4 linked regions of the Homo sapiens genome follow. The protein of the gene in region 2 interacts with the protein of the main gene of each other region in a pairwise test. Each region holds a gene or a part of one and is shown on either strand. Other genes may lie near its edges.

Region 1 (6,029 bases), on a different chromosome or scaffold from region 2:
ATTGTACTGGAGTTGTGGGGAAGGGATATCTCCTGGAGTCCACTAGTATGACATTTAAAAAGAACATATTTCACTATACTTTTGCCAGACCTTGTACACATATGTAAATAAAAAAATCTGCCTTAAGTTTGTTTTTCTTTTTTGGAAGTAGTTGGATATGATTTATATCTTCAAGTAGATGAAATAACTTTTTTTGAGATTTCATTATAATTATTAGACTCACATTTTTAAAGGTAAAGCACTTTCAACGTCTGTTTCATTTGATCTTGGCAATGAGCCAGTGAAGCAGGTAAGAGATCCAGTATTAGATCCCAGTTCTCCTAATTGCTAACCCAGTGTTTGTCAAACAAAGTTAAAAAACAAACAAAAAAACCCCTCCCCATTATGTGAGATAGGTCAGTATATCTTTCTGTCTCATAGGAATTCTGCAACTCTCCTTTGAATAGGGAATTAGGAAGTATTTTCTAACAACAGGGGAGTGATTTGTTAGCCTTTTTCTTAGGAAACTAGGGATTTAAAATTAGTTTCAACATTTTTCAAATCTATAACTGGTAGGAAGTGGAACTTTAAAACTCACCTGGAGAAATACATTGTAAAGAATCAATAGGAGTCAAGAGATTAGGTACCCAAAGGCCTTAGCAAGATTCTCGTGTATGACAGAAACTTGTTTAACTAGAATCTTTAAATAACAGCTTCCGAAATCTCAGAGTATTCAATATGGAAAACCTGTTTTTAGTGCCTTCTCTTCCAGTTACTTCAACAGTATTAGCTATTTAAAAATGTAAAAAGATAGAGGGTGAACAATGTCACAAGTTGGAGTGGGTGTGCATTTGTTCTAGGGGACCCTTCAGGATATTTTTAACTTACTCTCCAGTATTTGATGAAATAGCTGAAGACTGTCGTAGCAATGTACAGGCAGTAGAGAACAGAGTAAGCTAAGAATTGAAGGAAGAATTTGTAGTTGGAAAATCCAATGCAGTTATTAACCCTAAAAAAAAAGAAAAACTAATTTGACATCAGGACCTCTTGATTGAGAGCACACTGATACATAAGTGAACTAAGCAATGGAATAATGCTAGTTCTGCTGCTTCATTATGTGTCGTGTAAAAGCCCAATAGAGATAGAAGTCCCTTAATAAGAACAAACTGGATAAAACAAGTTCATGTCTCACTTGTTTATTCTTTCATTTACAGGCACAGAAACACCTGGCCTGCCTAATAGCTCTGGACTGGTTCGTGACACATCCAAGCAAACCTGGATCCTGGTTGCTAAAAATGTATTACAGTTTTAGCAGCTACATTTGGTACAGTTGTGGCATGTTCTTTTTGTAGTTAGGTGATTTCAGACTGGCCCGCAGGGTCTGATATACAAAATTTGGAAAATTGCTGAATTTAACATTCTAGAATATTTCAAACATCAAGCCAACTAGAAACAGAACTGAATTGTGTAATGTTAAAAGGAGAAATGTTTGTGCTGTATTTCATTACTATGCTCAATTGCTAAAGTTAATGAATATGAGACCATTAGCTTTGTAACTCCAGGAATTCACTACCATACCTTTGGTGTTATATTTTTTCTTTATTTAAAATGTTACCCCTCCCCTGTCCCCTACAGAAATATAAAACCCAGTGAATTATGGTGGCAGAAACAGGCATGTGACAACTATGCTTAGAAAAGTGCATATAATTGAGCAACTTTGACCCCTTTAGAGGAGAGAAATGAATCAAACAGACATACCAAGGGCAGTGATGATCCATTTTTAACACACACCTACGAAGGGGACAAAATACAGTGTGATAAGTGAGGCTATGGAAATGAAGCAACATCTCATAATTAAACTCAAGGTTTCACCAGTATTTTTACATGGTTCTAATAACACCCATTCTCAGATTTCCACTATAGTGACTCCAAAACTGTGGCCCTCAGTTATTTCTAGGATGAGGTAATCACAACAACACTTTATAGGATCATGCCAGCAGCAAGTTACATGCTTATAAGTCCAACCTTTCAAAGGGATTGGAAACTCCAGATTATTAATACAGAGAAAAGGTTCAAGATGTCTCCTATCATTTTATTCAATACTTAGTTTAATAAAAATACAGAAGAAAATATATGGCTATAGCCTCTATCTGAATCAAGGGTAAGAAAAATATGGGTGGAATAAGTACTCAAGAGAAAAGGCATTACATGTATCAATATAAAAATGGGGTTTGCAAAGCTGGAACAATTTGGGCAACAAAAAAGTAGTATTGGGTTATAATGCAAAATGTAAAATGAATATTTATGCTTTCATACTGATATAAATAAATGATTGAATAAATAAATAAATGAAGAGAAGAGATAAATGTCCCAAGCAAAATAACTTGAAATAATTTGTGTAGATACTCCACCTTCAAGGATGGAGGGCATAACTTTCCATTCCTTTAGTGTTGGCTGTGCATAGTGACTTCCTTTCAAAGAGTAAAGCATAGAAAGGAAGAACAATTTTACAGTGGTGAAACCTGACATACTACCTCAGCCAGATGATCAAAATTAACCTTTCAGTGATAAGTCATGTTTATAGGTACCCTTAATATGATGTAATGAGAATGGCACCTTACTCTGTCGTCTTCCTCCCCCAGATCATATTACCCCAGTCTAACAATGATGAGGAAAGCATCAAACAAATCTCAATCAAGGGACACTCTATGACCTACTTGACCATTAATCCTAAATACTGTCAAGGTTATCAAAAACAAGTCTGGGATACTGCCACAGCTAAGAGAAGCTAAGGAGATGAGACATCACTATTAAATGTAATGTGGTATCCTGGATGGGATCCTGGAACAGATAAAGGACATTATGGAAAAACTGAGGAAATCTAAATATAGACTTCAGTTAAAAATAATGTATCAGTATTAGTTCATTAATTGTAACAAATGTATCATACAAATATAAGATGTTAACAACAAGGGAAACTGGGTGTGAGACATACAAGAACTATCTTCACAATAAATCTGTAAGTCTAAAACTGTCCACAAATACAATGTTAGTTTTTAAAATGTGGTCTTACTTCTCTTACTTATCTTTAGAGTAGCTTGGATCATCATCATCCGTGTGAGGGGTTTTGGCATATGCTCATTATAATTGAAAGGAAATGCTCTTATCTAGGTATGATTACATGTTAGGATCAGTCATTTTGTTGTCTAGGAAACCTTCAGTGGCCAAGCCCAGCCCAGGGGAAATATGGCCGTCACTTACATAGCACAGACAGAGCAGTGGTGGCAGCGGTCTGGCTTGATCAGATGACACCGGTCACAGAATCGTACAGCTATAAAAAAAAAAATAAGGTGGTTAGCACTTGTTAGGGCTCAATATAAGACCTTATATCTTACTAGCTTATCTGGATGACTTGTTATGCACTGATTATAGATAGTCAAACTCATCTCAAGTTACCAAGCAAAAGGCAGACTACATAAGAGAATTGGGGTATATATTTTTTTCCTTGTTGTATCCAATTTTGAAAGCACTTTTGGGGGCTGAAAGGAACGAGAAAAGTTTCTTATCTGGATATCTGTCATAAGATCTTTCATTATAAAACAAACTATACTATCAAATGCTTGAGGGATCTTGAAAAACCATTTAGCCTCTATTTACCCCCAACTTTCTGATCTGAAAATAAGGATTCACAGTTTATCTCCTGTCTCCAGAGGTTGGATTGTATGTGGTGGATAACACTCCTAAAACATGGTAAAGAGAGTGGTTTCTAGAATAATAATTTGGGGAACAGAAGAGACATTCTAGAACAATTAGTTTAATTGACCATTTCACAGATAAAGGAAATAAAGATCTGGGTCATATCAAGTGATTTGCCCAGGGTCACACAGCAAGTTGCTGGCAGGGCTGTGACCTGTACAGTTTTGATGATTTCTTATTTTAGGATTCTTTTAACTCTGTAATTCTTATTTTAGGATTCTAATATAAAAAAATCATTCCTCCTTCCCTCCCTCCTTCATTCCTTCCTTTCTTCCTTCCTTCCTTTCCTTTAGATGAAAGGTATTTTACTTTCCCTCTCATTTTCTAGATGTTCATTGATAGAGTACGACTGTGTTTAATGTGATTATTAAGTATAAAAACTAAAATGATGAATAATTTGAACTAATATAATCATTTCATCTAAAGTGTACATTAAGCACATATTACTGATTCAACACAATAGACAGTTAATTCAGCAGAGATTTGTGTTTACTTCCACTAATGGAAGTATGTGAGTGACTAAAGTCGTGGGTATAATTGAGTCAAAGAGGAAGGGAGAAGAACATGCATATCTGGGTCCTTTTGCATATTTTAAAATATACTGTCAATGCTCCTATCCTCATTTAAGCCACATTGTCTCTTAGCTAGTTGACTGCAATATCTGTGTAATTTATCACTCTGCTTTCATACTTGCCCCTCAAAAGACCTACTATACAGAGTAGCTGGGTGATCTGTCAAAATCTACATCAGATCTGGTGTAGTGGCTCATGTCTATAATCCCAGCACTTTGAGAGACTGAGGCACAACTATCGCTTGAGACCAAGAGTTCCAGACCAGCCTGGACAACATAGTGAGACCCTGTCTCTATAAAAAAATAAAATAAAATAAATTAGCCAGGCATGGTGGTGTGCACTTGTGGCCTCAGCTACTTGGGAGGCCGAGGCGGGAGGATTGCTAGAGCCCAGGAGTTCGAGGCTGCTGTGATCCATGAATGAACCACTGTACTCCAGCCTGGGCGATAGAGCAAGATCCTGTTTCTAAAAATAAAAAAAAAAATGTAAATCAGATCATATCACTCTCCACTTAAAACTCTCAATGGATTTCCAACACCTTCAGAATAAAATCCAAACTCCTTACCATGGCCTGTATCATCTAGCCTCTGCCTATCTCTTCAAATGAATCTTGTAAAACTCTCCTCATACTATGTTCCAGTGAAACTGGCTGCCTATCTGCTCTTGTAATCAAGCTTGCTCCTGTTTCAAGGCTTTTTGTGCTTGCAGTTCCTTTTGCCTGGGATGATCATCCCTCTGCTCCTTTTGGTATGATGGTTAATTTTACTTTTTTTATTTCAATAGGTTTTTGGGGAACAGGTGGTGTTTGGTTACATGGATAAGTTGTTTAGTGGTGATTTCTGAGATTTTGGTGCACCCACCATCTAAGCCGTAAACACTGTACCCAGCATGTAGTCTGTTAACCCTTGCCACCCCCTACCCTTCCCCCTGAGTCCCCAGAGTACACTATATCATTCTTAGGCTTTTGCATCCTCATAGCTTAGCTCTCACTCATAATTGAAAACATATGATATTAGGTTTTCCACTCCTGAGTTACTTTACATAGAATAATGGTCTCCAACTCCATCCAGGTTGCTGAGAATGCCATGATTTTGTTCCCTTTTTATGGCCAAGTAGTGTATATTTTTTATGGCTGAGTAGTGTGTGTGTGTGTGTGTGTGTGTGTGTGTGTGTGTGTGTGTATATATATATATATATATATGTAACATTTTCTTTATTCACTCATTGGTTTGGGCTGGTTCCATATTTTTGTAATTTGTAATTGCAAACTGTGTTGCGATGAACATGCCTGTGCAAGTGTCTTTTTCATATAATGACTTCTTTTGCTCTGGGTAAATACCCAGGAGTGGGATTGTTGGATCAAATGACAGATCTACGTTAGTTCTTTAAGGAATCTCCATACTGTTTTCCATAGTGGTTGTAGTAGTTCATATTCCCACCAGGAGTGTAAAAGCGTTCCCTTTTCACCACATCAAAGCCAACGTTTATTATGCTTTGATTTTTAAATTACGGCCATTCTTGCAGGAATAAGGTGGTATTGCATTGTGGTTTTGACTTGCATTTCCCTGAAAATTAGTGATGTTGAGAATATTTTCACGTTTGTTGGCCATTTGTATATCTTCTTTTGAGAATTGTTTATTCAGGTCCTTAGCCCACTTTTTGATGGGATTGTTTTTTTCTTGCTGATTTGTTTGGGTTCCTTGTAGATTCTGGATATTCGTC
Region 2 (6,029 bases):
ATTGAGCTATACATTTGTGTGTTTGTGTGTATGTGTATTTGCGTGTAAATATTAGTTTTCATGTGGATCTTTATATAGCATTTTATTTAAGGATAAAATATTTTGAGCAACTGATGCTTTAGATAGTCAGGTTAATCTAATGCCCATAAAATTAGTTACTAATTCTAAAACCAGGTTTTAATTTGCAATGTCTTAAAACTAACATTCACTGATATATCCCAGTGATGCACAAAAAGTCTGGATTGCTTGTTTGAGAAGACAAGGACCAAGAGTCAATATGATTTAAATTCATAAAATCATGACATATTCCAAGAGTAGACATAGCCTTGGTTTTCAAATCCTATTTACTCAAAGGATTCCTTTAATCAGAGAGTGATAGGAATTTGGGTCTGTGATAGGAGTTTGGGTCTGTCTTTCTTTGTACTTTCAGTATGTAGAACAGGGCAGGCTCTGACATCAGACTGCCTAAATTTGAATTTAGGCTCTTCGATTTTCAAGCTGTGAGACTTCTCCAAGTCTCAATTTTCTTATCTGTAAGATGGGCATAGTAATAGTAACTTTTAGAATAGCAACCTTTCTTTAAGAATGTAAAATTGTTAGTGTATTCATTCATTTCATTTAGCTATCCAACATGTAGTTATTGAAAGTTTCATGTGTGCAAGATATTGGGCGGGTTGGGGATTGCAAAGATAATTCAATCACTGCAAATAGAGATCAAGATGGACTTAGAGTTTCAGACCATGGTCTTGGAATCCTGCATGTTTTTCTGACTGAATAAGCTTAATAGACATATATACATGGAATATAGTAAATAATGATTATGTAATCAGAGTTTATTGGTCTTTTGGAAACATAGAAATGGTAGGTCCTTGGTAATCCAGTCACAACATTTCCTTTTCCCCAAGCTTCATCGTTTTTGTGTTTTGTTTTGTTTTGTTTTTGAAACAGAGTCCCACTCTGTTGCCCAGGCTGGAGTGTAGTGGTGGGATCTCAGCTCACCGCAACCTCCGCCTCCCCCGTTCAAGTGATTCTCCTGCCTCAGCCTCCTGAGTAGCTGGGATTACAGGTGCCCAACAGCACATCTGACTACTTTTTGTATTTTTAGTAGAGTCAGCCTTTCACCGTGTCGGCCAGGCTGGTCTCCAACTGCTGAACTCAGGTGATCCGCCCACCTTGGCCTCCCAGGGTGCTGGGATTACAGGCATGAGACACCACGCCCGGCCAGCTTATTGTTTTCAAGCCATTTTAGCAAATCTTTGAAGTTTCTTCCACTTATTCACAAAAAAAAAAAAAATATTCTCCATAGATTTCCAATTTCCAGTGATTGCTGAGAGTCACAGGAAGTATTTTTAAAATGTACTCTTGCATTTATTTAATATATGCAAGTATATAGAGTAGGGAGCAAAGATGGAAGTTAATGATGAGGATATGCAATTGAGAAAAAGACCAATATAATCCATGCATTCCTGAAGCTTATATCCCAGGGAAACTTTCACCTCAAGGAATGAATCTATGTCCTCCTCTTGGGCTGAGAATAAAAACATCAACCATCTATACCTGTTTCTTAGCCATTCCATGAAAGGCTTTATTTGAGGCAACAAGAGCCAGGAATTTTGAGAGGAAACAAATCTTAAAAGGAGGCCTTGAGCAAGCGATGCTAGGAAAGGAAAGGGGGAAGGATGTCAGCAGCAGAAAAGCTGTGGGACCAAAATCAGATTAGTCAAACTGAAAAATAATAAATAAATAAATAAATAAATACACCAATTGGAGAATCTTGTAAAATATCCCACACAATTGTTCAATTTGGTGTTAAAGCTTAAGTGAATTTTTCAGTGAAACACTGATTCTAACCAGTCCAATTCAATCAAATTTTATCTTTCTGTCTGTATTAGTCTGTTTTCACCCTACTGATAAAGACATACCCAAGACTGGGCAATTTACAAAAGAAAGAGGTTTAATGGACTCACAGTTCCACGTGGGTAGGGAGGCCTCACAATCATGGCAGAAGGTGAAAGGTGTGGCAGCAGACAAGAGAAGAGAGCTTGTGCAGGGAAACTTCCCTTTATAAAACCATCAGATCTCATGAGACTTATTCACTATCATGAGAACAGCAAGGGAAATACCTGCCCCCATGATTCAATTATCTCCCACCAGGTCGCTCCCACAACACATAGGAATTATGGGAGCTACAATTCAAGATGAAATTTAGGTGGGGACACAGACAAACTATATCACCATCTCTATTCCCTTTGCACCATTTTGTCATGCTATCAAATGGGTTTCTGAACTGCCAATTACTTTCTGTCTATATATATATGTGACTTTTTCACTGAAACATTTAGAAATGTACACTGTATATATATATAATCTATTTACAAAACATTTACAAAAACATAAATATTAATAAAAATGTAAAATATATATATAGTGTACATTTCTAAATTTCTTTGGACTTAATTTGGATATACCGTCAAAGCCCTAATATCTTATCTAATTTACCATTTAGGTAGACAAGTGACAGAACATACCTTTCTGTTTTTCAGTTGCTAACAAACAACTTTATAGAAGACCTTGAAGGAGATAATTCCTAGAGTCTAACACAACAACAGTCAGAATCTAAACTGGTTTGAAGGCAAAAGAAACTACCTTTTTAAAAATGCAAATGTCAACCTCCTCACTCCTTTTTTATTTAATACAATGATTAAGGCTTGGCCTACAGAGTCACTTATCCACATCCGCTCTATAAGAACCAGAAGCTCTTTGAACATGTAGGCAGCTCCTGATCTCAGGTTTTCAGATGCCAAGAATCAGCTGAGGTAGCAATGTCATGTTCCAGTAGCTTGTGATCACATGGCAACATCAAAGCTAAGGTAGGAACACCGCTCCTCAATGAGTTAAGTGTTTAGAGATGGTTGCCATCTGTTGTAGCTATTTGTTCCTAAATAGGTAAATGTAAAAATAACCAGGCATTCCTACAGCAATTCTCTTACAAAATAAATAAATAAATAAGTAAGTTCATTAGCACATTTTCTGCCAGCATTTTTAAACAGCAATCTAGGTAATTCTGACACAGATGGTCTAAGGACTACACTCTGAGATGCACTGGTGTGTATACAAAGCCTCTCTCAATCAACAGACTGATCAAGCAGTGATTCCCAGGAATTGAGTCTGGTGCCAGGATGACTACTTAAGAATATAGAATGTTAGAAGCTACCCTAGATTTACTGGAGCCCAGAAATCTGCTTATGAATCTGTATACTTAAAAGTTCTCCAGGAGATTCTAATAACACAGTCTGTGGTATTAGAGAGAGGGGGTTGGGTTTTAGCTTAACAAATCTATGAGTGGGACCTTATTCCACAATTTACTAGTGTCTAACCTTATGTAATGTCTTTGGTCTGTAAAACAGCTGTTGTGAGGATTAAATAAAGCAATACATGTTGAGAGTCTAGCATGTAGTAACCTGCTTGCCATTGTATGCCTAGCTCTCAGTAAAATATACAGAAGTAAAAATGTATGCTTCATGACTTTGAGAAACATATAATCTATTTACAAAAACAACATAAATATTAATAAAAATTTAAAATATGAGTTTATATTCTAAAGCTGTAACATGGTTGTACACATACACCAGAAAACACACAAGACACAATATTCAGAATAATAAAATAGAGAAGTGTAAAGATATAGGAACAATCATATAAAATTTTCTTGAAAATGTTTAATTCTTCTTTAGGTAACCTAATTCTCATTAAATCACTGAATTTTTATTTAGATTATAGAAAAATATTAACATCATGAGTGGCAATCAACTTGTATTTATTATTTTATTATTTAAAATGAGAGGTAGAAAAATAGTAGTGTATATCTCGGAAGGGGTTTCATAGGATATGCTTAAAGGGGCCCAAGACAACCCTGAAATTTTATACAGAAGGGTTGTTTATATGAATATGGATATTTCTGGGGAGAGATCTATAGCTTTCATTTTTCCAAAGGGTTTTGTGGCCCCCCCAAAATGTTAAGGACCATTGAAGATTGGTCCTTTTAGTACATTTTATGTGCGTCCTTATTTATGCCAAAGAAATACGACTCCTGATTGCATGCCAAATAATTTACTTGTTTGCTTTCTCTGAACTGTCCTCTGAGTCAGTTTTCCACAAGCTTTAACCATTCAAATATCCCAAGAAAAGAAGGAAGAGTAAGATTCAATTTAAGAAAACTCTAAAGCAGAGTTTCATGACCTCAGCCTATTCATATTCTGCAGATATCAGCATGGAAATTTATGTACATGTTTTAAAAGTTCCAGGGCAGAAATTAACTGATGATCATTTTTGAGTTTTTCCTTTTATTTTTTATCCATTGCTCAGTTGTTTGAATTATTTTCCATTAGTTCTGTGTTTCTTTTCTTCTCAGTTAGAAAAGTGAAGGAACTTCCCTGGAAGGATACAATTCAATTTTGCCAACTTGCATTTTGTCAACTTAGCAATTCTTTCATTTGTGTTTTATTTATAATGTGGTAACAACACTATTGATGTTACATGTTTTTATTTCTCTCTTTTTTTAGGTGTGTGTGTAATATTGACTGTTCTCAAACCAACTTCAATCCCCTCTGCGCTTCTGATGGGAAATCTTATGATAATGCATGCCAAATCAAAGAAGCATCGTGTCAGAAACAGGAGAAAATTGAAGTCATGTCTTTGGGTCGATGTCAAGGTAATGTTCATACCAAAATTCATTTCAAAGAATGATTTTAGTCTTTGTGCAAAAATGAAAAGTGAAGAAAACTCCTTATTAGGCAGCTATTCCATTTCCAAAATGCAGTGCTTATTTACAATGGATAGTAGAGTCTACTGTAGCATTTGTGTCGATTATAGGATTTTGAGGGGCTCTCAGCAACCGTCCAGATCTGTCTCTATACAATGGAACTGTATTGTCACAATGCCATAAACACAGAAGCCAATATTCACAAGATAGCAGACAATTTTCTTGCAAAGGGAAAAAAGAAACTCAAAAACATTTTTAAAACGAATCTAAGAATTTATTAGACATCCTTGAAACTAAAAGCAAATCACTTCATTTTTATGTATTGATTCAGTACAAATATTTAAAATGCATTTTTAAAAGCAAGAGGTACTAGAATGTTCTATTTTCTTTCTTGTTCAGAAACAAGCATTTTCTTAGGTTTTGTTACTCCTTTGACCAATTTTTCTCAGTTATAATTGTGAATCTTCTTCTTCTCCCAAACTTTAGAAAGCTCTCTTCATTTTATTATTTGCTCTCAGACAGAAATTGACATTGTAAATCTGTCTTAGTATGATGCAGGTTGCTTAGAACTACAGTTGTAAAAATTCCTTAATTGCAATGAAGATATTGTTGGAGGAAATATATAAGTTTGATATTAGATATTTAGGAAGCAGTTAATCAATTTTTATTGTTAATTTTTTAACACAGATAACACAACTACAACTACTAAGTCTGAAGATGGGCATTATGCAAGAACAGATTATGCAGGTACATAATATTTTCTTCTACAAAATGTGAGCTCTTCTATTAAAAGAGAGTCCTGGGAAATGGTTGTTTACTACTTATTCCAAAGTGAAGCTTGCAAGACTTCTAACATGTGCTAGCCTTCTCTTGCTTAGTTCAAGCTTTCATTAGGCAAGAGTAATTTTTTGTTGAAGCAAAGAAGACATACGGTTTTTGCCAGAGTTAAAGCAATTGTCAAAAATGTCACTAAGATATAATTAGCTTGTCTTTACAGTGCAAATAGTACAAATAACAAAACATTTATCAAATTAATAGCATCAATGGAAATGAATGCAATTTCTGGCAATATATTATAATAAATGCAAATGTTCTTGTTTAAATTTTCATAAAAGTCAACAATGAAAAGTTTGCTAGTCTCTAAAAAGCTAGAAAGGACAGCTACAAATAATAATGCAGGTTGTCTTTATTTAGATGCAAAGTTAAAAATGTATGTATAGGTTTTTTTAATAGTAAATTTCTTTAACTTATTTTGAAACTAAAATGT
Region 3 (6,029 bases), on a different chromosome or scaffold from region 2:
CGTTCCTCTGGGAAGAGGGTACCTACTTGCCTGGGGCGAACATAGGGAGTACTCTCTCCTTCCTCTTTATCCCAAGGGGGCGGTGAATAGGAAAGACAGAGTCCTCCCTATGTGGAGCAGTGCTGGATGTCTATTGTCATCTTCATCTTTATCATCATCGCCATGGCTGACATTTACACAGTGCTCACTGTGAGCCATGTATCATTCTAATCACTTTTCATACATCAACTAATTCGATCCTCAACAATGCTATGATGTATGATACTATTATTATCTGCATTTTCCAGATGAGGAAACTGAGGCACAGAGAGTTTGTTTGCTCTACCATTTTTCCCTATGGTCTGAGACCTAGGACCCTCCTTTGGAAGAGGGAAGAAGGAGGGGATCAAGCGTAAGAATTAAGAAGGCATGGACAGAGTCTAGGGGCCCTCATAAACATGGATCCAGGGGGAATTGGACTCCTGGCCTGTGTCAACTGAATATTTTTATGTGGTTTTGTATTTGTGTTTCCTTTTGGTTCTTCCTTAATATCCAGTCAGGTCATTTTGGAAGTTGCAGCCTGCATTGGCTGTAGTAAAGGAAGCCAAGGGGTGATGGATCAGAGCTCCCTTGGGCCCGGGGTGGTGGTGAGAACAGTAAGCGCACGAGCCCCTTGGGGGCCCAGGGACAGGGAGGTGTGCCACTTTCCACCAGTCTCGCCTCCTCACCTGAGCGTCCTCATCTAGATTTCTCCCCTGTTTAAACCTACAAAGCTTTCTCATTTTCTTTCAACAACCCCTTCCCTCTCAGGCAGGGATGGCCTCAGAGGCACTGGTCAATTCCTCTCCTGCTCAGGGAAGGAAGGTAACGGTTCAGTGGGCAGAGCACCGGCACTTTCCTAAATGCCTGATCCCATGCCTTCCCATGCACCTAGACTCCCAGATTGCTTGAGTCCTGGACATGCCATCCTAGAAAGCTGGGCAGAGAAAGGGGCAGGATCCAGCTTGTGCCCACCGATGATCCCTAAATGCTCCCACATCTGCTCGCTGGCTCTGAAGGTGTCTTCCTGGAGAATAATATCTGCTTTGGGATTTCTCCATCAGCATTTCTCCCTGTGACCTGGGTGAAGAAAGGCAACTTCTCCAAAGCTTCTATTTCCTATTTTGTTTTTGTTTTAATTTAATTTTATTTTTTTTTTGAGACAGAGTCTTGCTCTGTCGCCCAGGCTGGAGTGCAATGGTATGATCTCAGCTCACTGCAACCTCTGCCTCCCAGATTCAAGCAATTCTCCTGCCTCAGCCTCCCAAGTATCTGGGATTACAGGCATATGCCACCACACCTGGCTAATTGTTGCATTTTTAGTAGAGATGGGGTTTCACCATGTTGGCCAGGCTGGTCTTGAACTCCTGGCCTCGTGATCTGCCTGCCTCGGCCTCCCAAAGTGCTAGGATTACAGGCGTGAGCCACCGTGCTCGGCCTGTTTCCTATTTTGTAAAGTGAGAAGAGTAGCATGGACTCCCAGGGTTACCAAGAGTATTCACTGGGTCTGTGTCAGCAATGCACCAGGCACAGTGTCTAGACTGTGCTGCCTACTCCCCATTTTGAGGTGCAGAGCTGGGCCAAGAAATGAGTGACTACACAATTCTTCCTAACAAAAGGGCTACAGCACAGTCCATGGCAGCCTCTACCTGCAGGTCCTGGACAGGGCCCCAGGATAAGCTGTGGGAAGGAGAGGGGATATGGGGAGCATAAAGCAGCAGACCCATTTCTGAAGTGGGGAGATGGGAGTGAAGGTTTCAGGGGCCTGGGAGCATAAACATGCCCCTCCTTGGGGATCCTTGCCGGTTACTCCTATTTCCAATATGACCTAAGGAACTAACTCTGAGGCCAGAATTCCAGCTTGGACTTGCCAGCCGTGTGATGCTGCAGCAGTTACTTAACATCTCTGACCACCTGGTTTATCAACTGCAAAATGGTGGCAATAATGCCAGCCTCTAAGCTGCTGTGAGGGTTATATAGGAAAATGCTATATTTAAAGTCCCTACGTGAGGCCCAGCACTTAGTAAGCACTTTACAAATGGTAGTTGGGATTATTAAGGAAACAATCTACCCATTTCGTAAGGAGAAAAAGTAAGCCCAGAGTGAAGGAAAAACCACCTGGGGAAGCACCAGGAAACTCATTGGTAAAAGCCAGTGGGGAGCTAGAGTCCCCAGTGTCCAGTGCAGGGCCCTGCTGGAGAAAGTGCTGGAGCAAGCAGGGGGCCCACCTACCTCCAGGTAGACAACCCAGGGCATGACCAGTGTGGCGACGAGGAGGTCGGCCACTGCGAGGCTGACGATCAGGTAGTTGGTGGTGGTCTGCAGCGCCTTCTCGCGGGACACAGCCATGCACACCAGCACGTTGCCGAAGACGATGACAGCGATGAGCAGGGTGAGCAGTGTGGCATAGTAGTTGTAGTGGGGTCTGTCCGCCTTCCCGTCTGACCCGTTGAAGGGCCGGCTCCAGTTCTGCCTCTCCAGATCATCATCATACCAGGACAGATTCAGTGGATCCATCAGGGCGGTGGAGCCACTGGGTGGCCAGGCTCTGGCCAGGAAAAATGGACACAAGGTGTCAGTGAGAGGGCCTCTTGCAGAGGTCTCCAGGAAGAAGACCAACTCCTGGCATTTAATAATGAGAATTTTCCAACTCGGGATTTTAAGGTTTACGGCTAAGAATTTTCTAAAAATGTTGGGCCTTCTGCCACTCTTTTGCTAGCAAGTTTTTACAGCTGGTAGGACAAATGAGCAAACACAATTTTTTAAAAATGCATAATAAGATGAGCTTGAACAGAGCTGATCCATCATTTATTTATTCATTCAACAAACACTTCTTAAGCACGACCCATGCACCACACACTTCAGTTAACCAGGCTTGCTACCTTCTAGTCATCGAAACAGAAATGGGTATTCATTCATTCTTGATTCTATAAATATTTATTAAGCATTGTTCTATATAGTTCTAGAAATATAGGCAGGAACAAAATATACATGGTTCTGTAGCTCACATTCTAGGAGAAACAACAGCCAATTAATCAAGCAATTACATCTAAGGGTGATAGGGAGTAGGAAATGGAACAGGGAGAGAGATACATAACCTAGTTCAGGTATTCAGGGAAGGCTTTCTAGAGGAAGTGATGTTCAACAGACAAACAACTGAAGGATGTGTAGGAATTAGCCAGGTAAAGAACTAGGAGTCAGCAGAAGGTCTAGACATTGGAAGCAGTATATGCAAAGCACAGAGGTAGAGAGGTAGACAGCAGGTGGAGGGCCTCAAAGAGATTCTGGATAGCTGATGCAGAGGGACCTGGCAAGGGTTGAGTCTGGGGAGGTTGCAATAGGCAAGATCATAGAGGGCCTTAAAAGTCATGCTAGGAGTTTATACATGATCCTAAGGGCAGCAGGAACCACATGATCAGATTCGCCTTTCGAATAGGTGATTCTGACAGCACTGTGGAGAACGGAGAGGAGGGGCCCAGAGTGGAAGCGGGACACCAACTGGGAGGCTGTAGCAGGAATCCAGGTAAGAGATGATGAGGTTTGGCAGGATGCAGGGAGTGAAAGCCCTGCAGAATGGGCATCTCATCCCACAGAAGGGAAAGACTTCCTGAAGTGGGTATCATCTGGGATGAAGTAGAAGGAGGACTTAGCCTGCTAAATGAGAGGGGTGGGGGGATGTTCCAGACAGACAATATGACATGGTATCAAATCATCAAACAGCAAACAATTCTGTTTGGCCAAAAATGTAGGGTATGGCAGTAACGTTGAGGATAATTAAACTGCAGGGACATTTACAGGCCAGATTGTGTCTTGTCAGCTGGAGAGTCCCTGAGAGGTTGGGCCCAGAGACATGACCCTATTGGACTGGTGTTCTAGAAAGTGTATGGTGTAGAAGAGAGCTCAGAGGAGAGTGATGTTTTGGCTGTAATTTAGGTTAGAAATTGTGGTCATCTGAACGAAGATAGTGGAAACGAGGATGGAGAGACCTGTTCAGAATTAGGAGCTAAACTGCAAGTCAATTTCATGGTCCTTGGTCCTTGGATAGGTGTGGGGCAAAAGTGGGTATGGGACAAGCAGGGAGATAAGGAGTTGAGGGTAATGCTAGGATTTCTGCGTGGGGCTCTGGGAGGCTGGTGTCGCATATTCACAGAGAAAAGGGACCAGAGGGGCTCAGGAGCAGACTTGGGAGGCATCAGGAGTTGATGAACTTGACAGCCGGAGTTTTGGTTGTGACTGAAGCATAATGCATGGATAATATAGTTGGCTTTTCAGCTAACAAAAGTCTTCCTCTTTTACAGAATAGAATTAAACTTATCAGCATTCCAAGGTGTTTCATACAAAGCACATGACTTCCAGGTACTTTGCTACTGCAAATTGAAAACCACCAATTGATGCCATTTGGGATGAATGTGGTGCCATGTCCAATCAATGAACAGGGCACACCTCCAGCAATGGGTCAGAGAGGATGGTGGAAGAGGGTCTGCCCAATCTCCACACTCTCATCCCTGTCTGACACACCCACTCTTCCAGCTTTAGTAGAAGAATATGGATCATGTCCTACCAACCACCATCACTCTGGAGCCTCGGGGAAAAGCAAAGTGCCTAATTCCATGTGGGGTGACATGGAATGCCACCACGCAGCAAATCTTCCTGTTCTAAGGTAATGAAGCATATGTCATATTGATGCTGTATTCTGCAAAACCAACTGAGCCCTCTTCCCATTTGGAGCCCACAGCGGGAGGCCTGCATGTATGTATTGATCAGGTGCCTGGGGCTGCTTCTGACATTCATTTACTCAATCGGCATTTATTGAACCTGCTGGGCATAAAGCACTGTGCAAAGCAGTGTCAGGGGCCTGAGGCGTGTGAGGCACACTTACTGCCCCCATCCTGACCATCGCTCTCTTCTTCTCCCCCCACTCCCTGCTGCTGATGATAGCATCATATACTTGTAAAGGGTTTGATAGTTTGCTAAGTTTTTTGGATATACTGTCTCATTTATCCTCAAAACAACCCTCGGAGGCTTTTAATTATTATCCCTGTCTATGGCCATACTACCTGGAACATGCTTGATCTTGTCTAATTATTATCCCTACTTTAATAAGAAAGGGATTTGGAAAACTCTTCTGTTCACTTCCCTTCCCTCTGCTTTTCCAGTCCCTATGCATCCTTCAAAGTGAGTCTTGCCTAGAATCCTCCTGTCTTAGAATCCACCCATATCCTCCTGCCTGAGCCATCACCCACCCTCCTCAGGGTCCTGCAGCACTGAAACACACCCCAGTGCTGCAGGAGACACCTGTTTAGGAGTCTCTTTTTTTCACTGGGGTGTAGACATCACAAGAGTTACAACATGTCTTGCTCATTCCTCCTCTTGTTCTTGGAATGAACAAATAAAAACCATACTATCTTGTTCTTTCCCAACTCTTGACTCTGGTTTGTGGGCAGTACGTATTCAACAGATGTTTGCTGAACTGAATCAAAGGCTCTGTTAGTGCAACTGGGAAGAAAACCCCTTCCCACTTGAAAGGCACCTGCTAACATAGGCTACCAGATTAACAAGTGATGAAAAAGTAAGGCACCCCAAGGGTGCCATAGGTGCTGCATGTTGGGTCCTGTTACAGTCTGCACTATGCTCTTCCCCCAACCCACAAAATGTATATGTTGAAGTCCTAACCCCCAGTACCTCAGAATGTGACTGTATTAGGATACAGGGCCTTTAAAGAGTTGATTATGTTAAAATGAGACGCTTAGGGTGGGCCCTAACCCAATCTGACTGGAGTCCTTATAAGAGGAGCTTTGGACATAAAAAGAGACATCAGGGATGCGCGCACAGAGGAGAGACCAAGTGGGAATGCAGCAAGAAGGCGGCCATCTGCTAGCCATGGAGAGAGGCCTTAAGCAAAATCAGCCCTGTTGACACCTTGATCTGGGACGTCCCAGCCTCCAGAACTATGAGGAAACAGATTTCTGTTGTTCAATCCACCCAATCTGTGGAATTTTGTCATAGCAGCC
Region 4 (6,698 bases), on a different chromosome or scaffold from region 2:
TTTCTCTTCTGTAAACAAAAGTAGGTGTCTTCCTAATTCCGTTTCAAAAAGACATCCTTTCAGTTCCTCACTCTGGCCATGGACATTTCCATGTGAAAATACACATAGTGCATCTTGCGGCCACTAAATACAAAGCCATGTACAGAAATGAGGCCAGGTGCAGATGGGGCGAATTGAAAAGATGAAAGAAGAAAAGAAGGACAGGGTCAAGAAGGCAACATTGATTGAGTGAAAGAATGAGAAGACGCAGTCAGTCAGGAGGTGATTCTCACTAAGGGTAAGTGGGGTGGTGATAGCACACCATTTTGATTATACTGAATGCTGCTGGGTGGTTCCCACTCCTTTGGTGAATTTTGTGTTATGTAAATTTCACCTCAACAATTACTTGTTTGAAAAAGAGAAAACAAGGCTCTAAGAAACAACTGCAACACAGAACTTATTATTATCCTTGTTCACTGATAAATATTTGTGTGTCATGAGCCTGTCATGGCAATTTCTGCCCTTCCCCTGGCCCAGCTTCGTTCTTATTTCTCCCCGCCGAGCTGCTGTACTTCAGAGATCTACACACCTACCCGCCTGCCCTCCCCCCACGGGGTCCCCTCACCTGAGCTCCTCAGCTTGCTTCAGCTGCTCTGCAAGCTTCTCCTCCTTGAACTGTCGCTCATTCCTCAGCATAAATTTTATGAGGTCTTTACACTCTTCATACTCTGAGAAAAGACAGACACGCCTGCCTCAGTGGAAGGCTGGACATGCTGCTGTGGTCACTGCCTACAGGGCAGGAGCCAGGTCCATCCCAAGGACAAAACTCTCCCCAGTACCAGGGTCTAGACAGGGATTTCCACATCTTTATTCTTCAGTCTCCTGACTTTCTGGCATCTGATCCTCCAAAATTTAAAGACGAAGAAAGAGAAACTCAAGGGCGCATCAAGGAAGTTGACAAGATGATTCAACCACAACGAAGTGGAGTCAGAACTCACAGCCCCTGAGGTCTGACTCTGAATGCGGGGCCACTTTCCCAAGTCTTGCAGCCTCTCCTCTAAAACACTGCACTGGGGCATGAAGTAGTGATTTCTTGTACAGTCGGGAAGGCCCCTAGGACTATGGGACTGATGGTTTCCCTTTTACTGGGTATTTCAAGGACAAATATGTCAAGGACTTTAAAAATATTTCATTTTTAAATCAATATTCAGATATGGTTTTAAGAATCATATCTGAAGCATAAAGTGTGAGATATAAGACAATAAGGCCATGAAGGAAATATGCCCAAATACTTTATTAGTATGAGAGGCAGCATTAAGATTTAGATTAGTTGTGTTAATTTAGAAACAGCATTAGTTTGTGTTAATTTAGAAACATCAGAATGAAGAACTAATAGATAGTGTTTCCACTGTGCCAATTAATGTTCAAGGAGATTGACAGGAAATACCTCATGTAATTCATTGCAGCAATTTACAGAGGTAGGTATTATTGTAGTACCCTCTGAACAGATGAGGAAACTGAGGGACAGACAAGACAAGCAACTTGGATGGAGCCCAGGAGACAGGCTGAGGGTCCCTGCTTTGCACACTGCACTGCTGCTTCCACACATTCTCCGGTGTGATCTTTCCTCTTTAGGAACAAGAGCCTGTGCACCAGGAAGCAGGACTTCACTCTCACCAAGGTACTCTCTGCTTTTTATTTTTATTTTTGATTTATTTATCTTTTTGTTTGTTTGTTTTTTGACGAGTCTTGCCCCGTCACCCATGCTGGAGTGCAATAGTGCAATCTTGGCTCACTGCAACATCTGCCTGCTGGGTTCAAAGGATTCTTCTGCCTCAGCCTCCCGATTAGTGGTGATTACAGTTGCCCGCCACGATGCCCATCTACTTTTTGTATTTTTAGTGGAGATGGGGTTTCTCCATGTTGCCCAGGCTAGTCTCAAACTGCTGACCTCGTGCTCTGCCCGCCTCAGCCTCCCAAAGTGCTGAGATTATAGGAGTGAGCCACGTTGCACGGCCCCTACTCCCTGCTCTTGATGCTGTCACTTATAGATAGCACAGGTTCTATTAGGAGCAGACTCCCCTTGAAGCCCCTCAGAGCAGGTACTGGCTACTATCACCAAGTTCCCCTCAGAGTCACTAGAACAGAGCTTTGCCTGTTGGGCCTCAACAGAAACTTGAACTGAATAAAAGTTCACTAGTCCTAGACATTTAGAACAACAGACTAGATGTTATTTGTCTGCAGGATCTTATATGGTACAGAGAGGATTCTTAAAAACATGATTGAGCCCCTTGGAGAAAACAGGTCATTCTGTGCCTGTGTTAGAAATCAATAACTGTGAGTTTAACTCTAGTTCCACCCCCATCTGATTGCAAACATGGAAAGTTGCTAAATACTTTGGCACCTCTGTCTTCCAACTTTAACAAAATGTTAAAATACCCATTTCTGTTTTCCTAGAAGTACAGGAAGGATGAAATTATTTTTGATGGAGAGAGCATTTAGTGTCTCAGAGAGAAGACAGGATATCATTCATCACTTTCATGATGGTGAGCCTATAGATCTTACTGTATTTCTTCTGTCGGTTGGCCAGGAAGCCGGCCAGTTGAGTTAGAAAACATTTCTCTTTGAGGTTTCTGAACTGCTGTTTCTTCTCTGCCAGCTGGGGGCGCAATGTCTCGTTGATTTCTAGAATGTTCATCTCTGCCTTCTCACTGGACCAAGGGCCGGCTGATACCACCATGCTGACGTTTGTGGCAGAAGAGGTGGAGTCAGGGACTGGGGAGAAGAAACCCAAACATATGATGGGTTAAAAACTGGTGAAATCAAATCGGTTTAATCAGGACTGAGGGATGTCAGTAACTGAAATTCTTAACTTACTGTTGTGAAAAATGTGATCACTCCCCACAGCACTTTAGGATCCTTCACCACAAAAACAAGGTTCGAGGTGCCTCAACTCAGAGCTGAAAGCACTGCCAGTAGCTCAGACTCTGATAAGAGTGAGGCAGAATGTGGCCAGCGTGCCAGGTAACCGTCTGCAGTTGCAATAACAGAATTAGAAGGTGGGGGTGTCATGGAATCTTAGGAGCTCTGCATTCCAATTGCCCAGGCTTTGCTGAAACACAGGCACCCTACTTTCACCTGAGGGTCACCACCAATGGGGATCATTCCTTCAGCATTCACTCTCAGTATTCGTGTACCCTTGTGACAATGCCACAGACCCATGTCTTTCCCAATACATCTAAGCATATTCCTCACTGTTTATCTCTTGTCTGTACAACATCATCAAGGCAGAAACAGTTTCCCAACAGGTTATATTTTCTTAATGGTAGTCATGAAGTCACCCCACCTGCTCTCAGTTAAAACAGAGCTTAAGGCTTTTCCACAGGTGTAAGATATCAAACTTTTAGCCTGCCCTGATATCCTCTGGGTCTTCTGCAGTTTTTTCTGTATCCACTAGAAAGTGAATGAATAATTCATTTTTTTAAAATATTTTCTTTCCTGTCTCAGTATTCTTGCTGCTGCATCCCATTGTTAGATTGATTTCCTCTTTCTTACTGGGGCACCTTCTTGGGTTTTCATTACATTCTAGACCAGTTTGACATCCCTACGTCCAAAGCTCTTCCTCTATGTGGGTTGATTTGTTTTTTAATGTCACTGAGCACTACATTTTATACTTGTCACTTATAGATGTCATTCTAGTGCCACAAGACCTCTTTTCAAGGTATCAAGTGATCAAAGTCATTTATATAGAGGTCTCCTGAAAACATGTGTGACCATCTATCTTGGGAAGTTTTGTAAACCTGATGCTATTTTGTTGTTTCCATTTTGTTTTCCCATATACTGAAAAGAACAGGGCCACGAGCAGTTCTTATGGAATATGGTTTGATATATATTTTGTTGAGATGACCTAACACCATTGATTTTGGGTTGCATTCCACTAACAGAACATGGCAAGATCAAGGTTATGGTCAGGGTTGGTTGGCGATCCTCAGTGTTGCTGTGCAGTAGAAGGTGAGTTTGAGGTGAGAGGAACAAGTAGGAAAGAGTGATCCCCTGAACCACCTCTTCGCTTTCTCAGCTTTCATCCCCACCTAGGTTTTGTGAGCCTGGAACTTGAGAGACTGTTCTGTAGCCCAGGTCTCCTAAGATTGGCTGCTGGACTTGCCTGAGTTGAGGGTGCAGTGGGTTGACCCTGGGCTGCCCAGCATTCATGTGGAAGTGAAGGAAGGAGGACTGGTTAATCCCATTTGAAAGCATCCCTCTCTGCAGCCCGCACCATCTTCCAGTGACACTGTAAGGATACTGCTTTGAGATGTATCAAAGGCTTTAAGTCAATGTATTTTCTAGGGTCTGGGAGACCTGACATTCTGTGTCAGAATGAAAATCTGTCAAGTTTCTAAATGAAAAAACTGCAGGTTCACAAAGTGTCATGGGTTACTTGAGGTCACAAAGGGATGAGTTTTCAGCACTGCCAATAAAAGCAATCACAATAATTATTCAGTAATTATTCATAGGATCCATACAATCCAGTAAATATTCACATATTTAGTAATTATTCATTGACCAATTCGTACAAGGCATTTTGCTCAAAACTGTGTTTATATTTGGACATTGTATCTTCATCATAATCCTTAAGGTAATGCTATTATCTATAAGTAACAGATAAGAAACCTGAAGATGAGGGACAGCTAATCACGTATTTGGCCATATTTCCATTTTTTGGTTTTTGTGATGCTGGAAGAATGACCAGAATGGGTCACGGGAAGAGTATTCATTCCTGTATTATTTTCCAGGACAGAGGTGTGCCCTTCTAGAGTACTGGGACCAAAATTCAGAAGTGTCTGAAACCTTGCTTTAACAGTATGGGAAATAACCTCTATCACCTGGAATTTCCCTGGAACTTTGGAATATACAAGAGAAGTATGAGACGTGGGTCTTCCCTTGGCTGTGTTTAATTCACTCTTCTATGGAATACCAATGATTCTCACTAAGACTTTTGCCTTTTTATAACCACAATGTATGTCTTATGGAGAAGATTGTACACTTTGCTCTATTTAGAAAGAATAAATATGAGCAATAGTTTTAGGTTTTATGCCCTGGACTTCATATTTTTCTGATTTCTGTTTTGAGATTAAATTCTCATGTAAATAGAAAAATACTTATTATTTCTCATCAGGCCAAGTTTGTTATCAGCTTGAGTTTTTGAAGATGAAGCACAAACTTTTGATTTTATCTTTGTCCTCATCAGCGCCACTCATTGTCTCTCAGTATGACCTGGACTTGCCCCTGCATTTACCCTCATCCTGCTGAGCCATCTCCATGCACTGCCCAATTCCATCAGTGATTCGGGGTCCTCCCAAGGCTCCCTGAAATGTGCACAGGGATCAGGACGTCAGACACATTCCAGACACAAAGGCAACCCACACTGTAGAGTGAGCAGCTGTGTTCCCACTTCCCTAATGTTCCAGTGATGTCCTCAAACTGAAGGGAACACTTTCCCTTTTTAAGGGTCTGTTCTTCATGTCTCAATGCCTCTGATCTAGTGAACACAACTGTCCTGAAACTGAAAGAACCTGCTAAATTTCGAGTTTCTGGTTAGGTGGCTAGAATAGGTTTATAAGACTTCCTTACTTACCTATGACTGCTGAAGTTTGAATTCTTAGCAGTATGATTCCTTTTCTTGTAAGCTGAGCAGCTTAGGAAAGATTGGCCATGTTGCTGTGCAAAAAGAGGTAAACTTAATTTATACTCAAAGCATGCTTGAATTTGGAACTAGGGCTTCCACTCTTCCAAAGCTGGACTGTCACTACCTCAGGCATGTGTCCCAAAGGGCTCATGTCTCTGTTGTACTCAAAGTTCAAATGGAGCCCAGCAAGCCAGATCTCCTTTACTTCTAGGTTCCCTCAACAGTTTCTCCTCTGCTTTAGAGACTGCCTTGAAAATATTCTTGTCCTGCTGTTGTGTTTTGGCTTTGGAATGATGTGATGCAGCTCAATGGGTCCTACCCCCAAGTTGATCAGAGTAAGAAACAGCTGGGAAAGTCAGTGCAAATTCAAGTTCATCGTCCTCCTTACAGGGATTCTGATTCAGAGGGCTCAGGTGGGGCCTGGAATGTGTTTGTTAACATGACTCAGATGTGCAGTCAGTTTGGGGACCCGCTGATACCATCGACCTTATAGTTTATGGGATGATTCTGTTTTGCTGATAAAGAAACTGAGGCATAGACAGTCTGTAACTTGCCCAAGTTCCCCTTGCTGTAAGTCCTGGAGCCAGATCTCAGGTGGAGCAGCCTCTTCCCCATCCCCTTCCCACATTTTCCAATTCAGCTGGGTCAATTCTTTCCAAGTACGTGTTTCTCTCCCCTATACCTCATTTCTGAAAAAAGGAGAACTGGAATTTAACTTCTTTCATCTAATACATTTCCTCACAACATGCTGCCAGCATCATATTCTGGCCTCTTACTATTAAAGTGAGATGCCTTTTTTTTTTTTTTTTTTTTTTTTTGAGACAGGGTCTTGTTCTGTCACCCAGGCTGGAGTGCAGTGGTGATTATAGATCACTGCAACCTTGAACTCCTAGGCTCAAGTGATCCTCTTGCCTCAGCTTTCCAAGTAGTTGGAACTCTAGGCACACATCACCATTTCTGGCTAATTTTTTATTTTTCATGGAGACAAGGTCTTGCTATGTTGCTCAGGCTGGTTTTGAACTTCTGGCCTCAA

The links.
Region 1: the proteins of TMEFF2 (region 2) and ZDHHC15 interact in binary tests that used the Homo sapiens proteins (3 or more experiments, as listed by UniProt).
Region 3: the proteins of TMEFF2 (region 2) and DRD2 interact in a two-hybrid assay, tested with the Homo sapiens proteins (one large-scale study listed by BioGRID and IntAct).
Region 4: the proteins of TMEFF2 (region 2) and NBPF19 interact in a two-hybrid assay, tested with the Homo sapiens proteins (one large-scale study listed by BioGRID).

Annotation. Positions count from the first base shown.
Region 1 is NC_000023.11:75,428,211-75,434,239, forward strand, and holds part of ZDHHC15 (palmitoyltransferase ZDHHC15), read right to left. Parts: intron 3,311-6,029; coding exon 3,241-3,310; intron 1,771-3,240; coding exon 1,738-1,770; intron 989-1,737; coding exon 868-988; intron 1-867. UniProt on the Homo sapiens protein: Palmitoyltransferase that catalyzes the addition of palmitate onto various protein substrates.
Region 2 is NC_000002.12:191,997,742-192,003,770, reverse strand, and holds part of TMEFF2 (tomoregulin-2 isoform 1 precursor), read left to right. Parts: intron 1-4,562; coding exon 4,563-4,711; intron 4,712-5,449; coding exon 5,450-5,509; intron 5,510-6,029. UniProt on the Homo sapiens protein: May be a survival factor for hippocampal and mesencephalic neurons. The shedded form up-regulates cancer cell proliferation, probably by promoting ERK1/2 phosphorylation.
Region 3 is NC_000011.10:113,422,117-113,428,145, forward strand, and holds part of DRD2 (D(2) dopamine receptor), read right to left. Parts: intron 2,567-6,029; 5' UTR 2,536-2,566; coding exon 2,251-2,535; coding exon of another isoform or gene 2,247-2,250; intron 1-2,246. UniProt on the Homo sapiens protein: Dopamine receptor whose activity is mediated by G proteins which inhibit adenylyl cyclase. Positively regulates postnatal regression of retinal hyaloid vessels via suppression of VEGFR2/KDR activity, downstream of OPN5.
Region 4 is NC_000001.11:149,471,954-149,478,651, reverse strand, and holds the start of NBPF19 (NBPF family member NBPF19), read right to left. Parts: upstream 3,608-6,698; 5' UTR 2,857-3,607; intron 2,755-2,856; 5' UTR 2,720-2,754; coding exon 2,545-2,719; intron 708-2,544; coding exon 605-707; intron 1-604.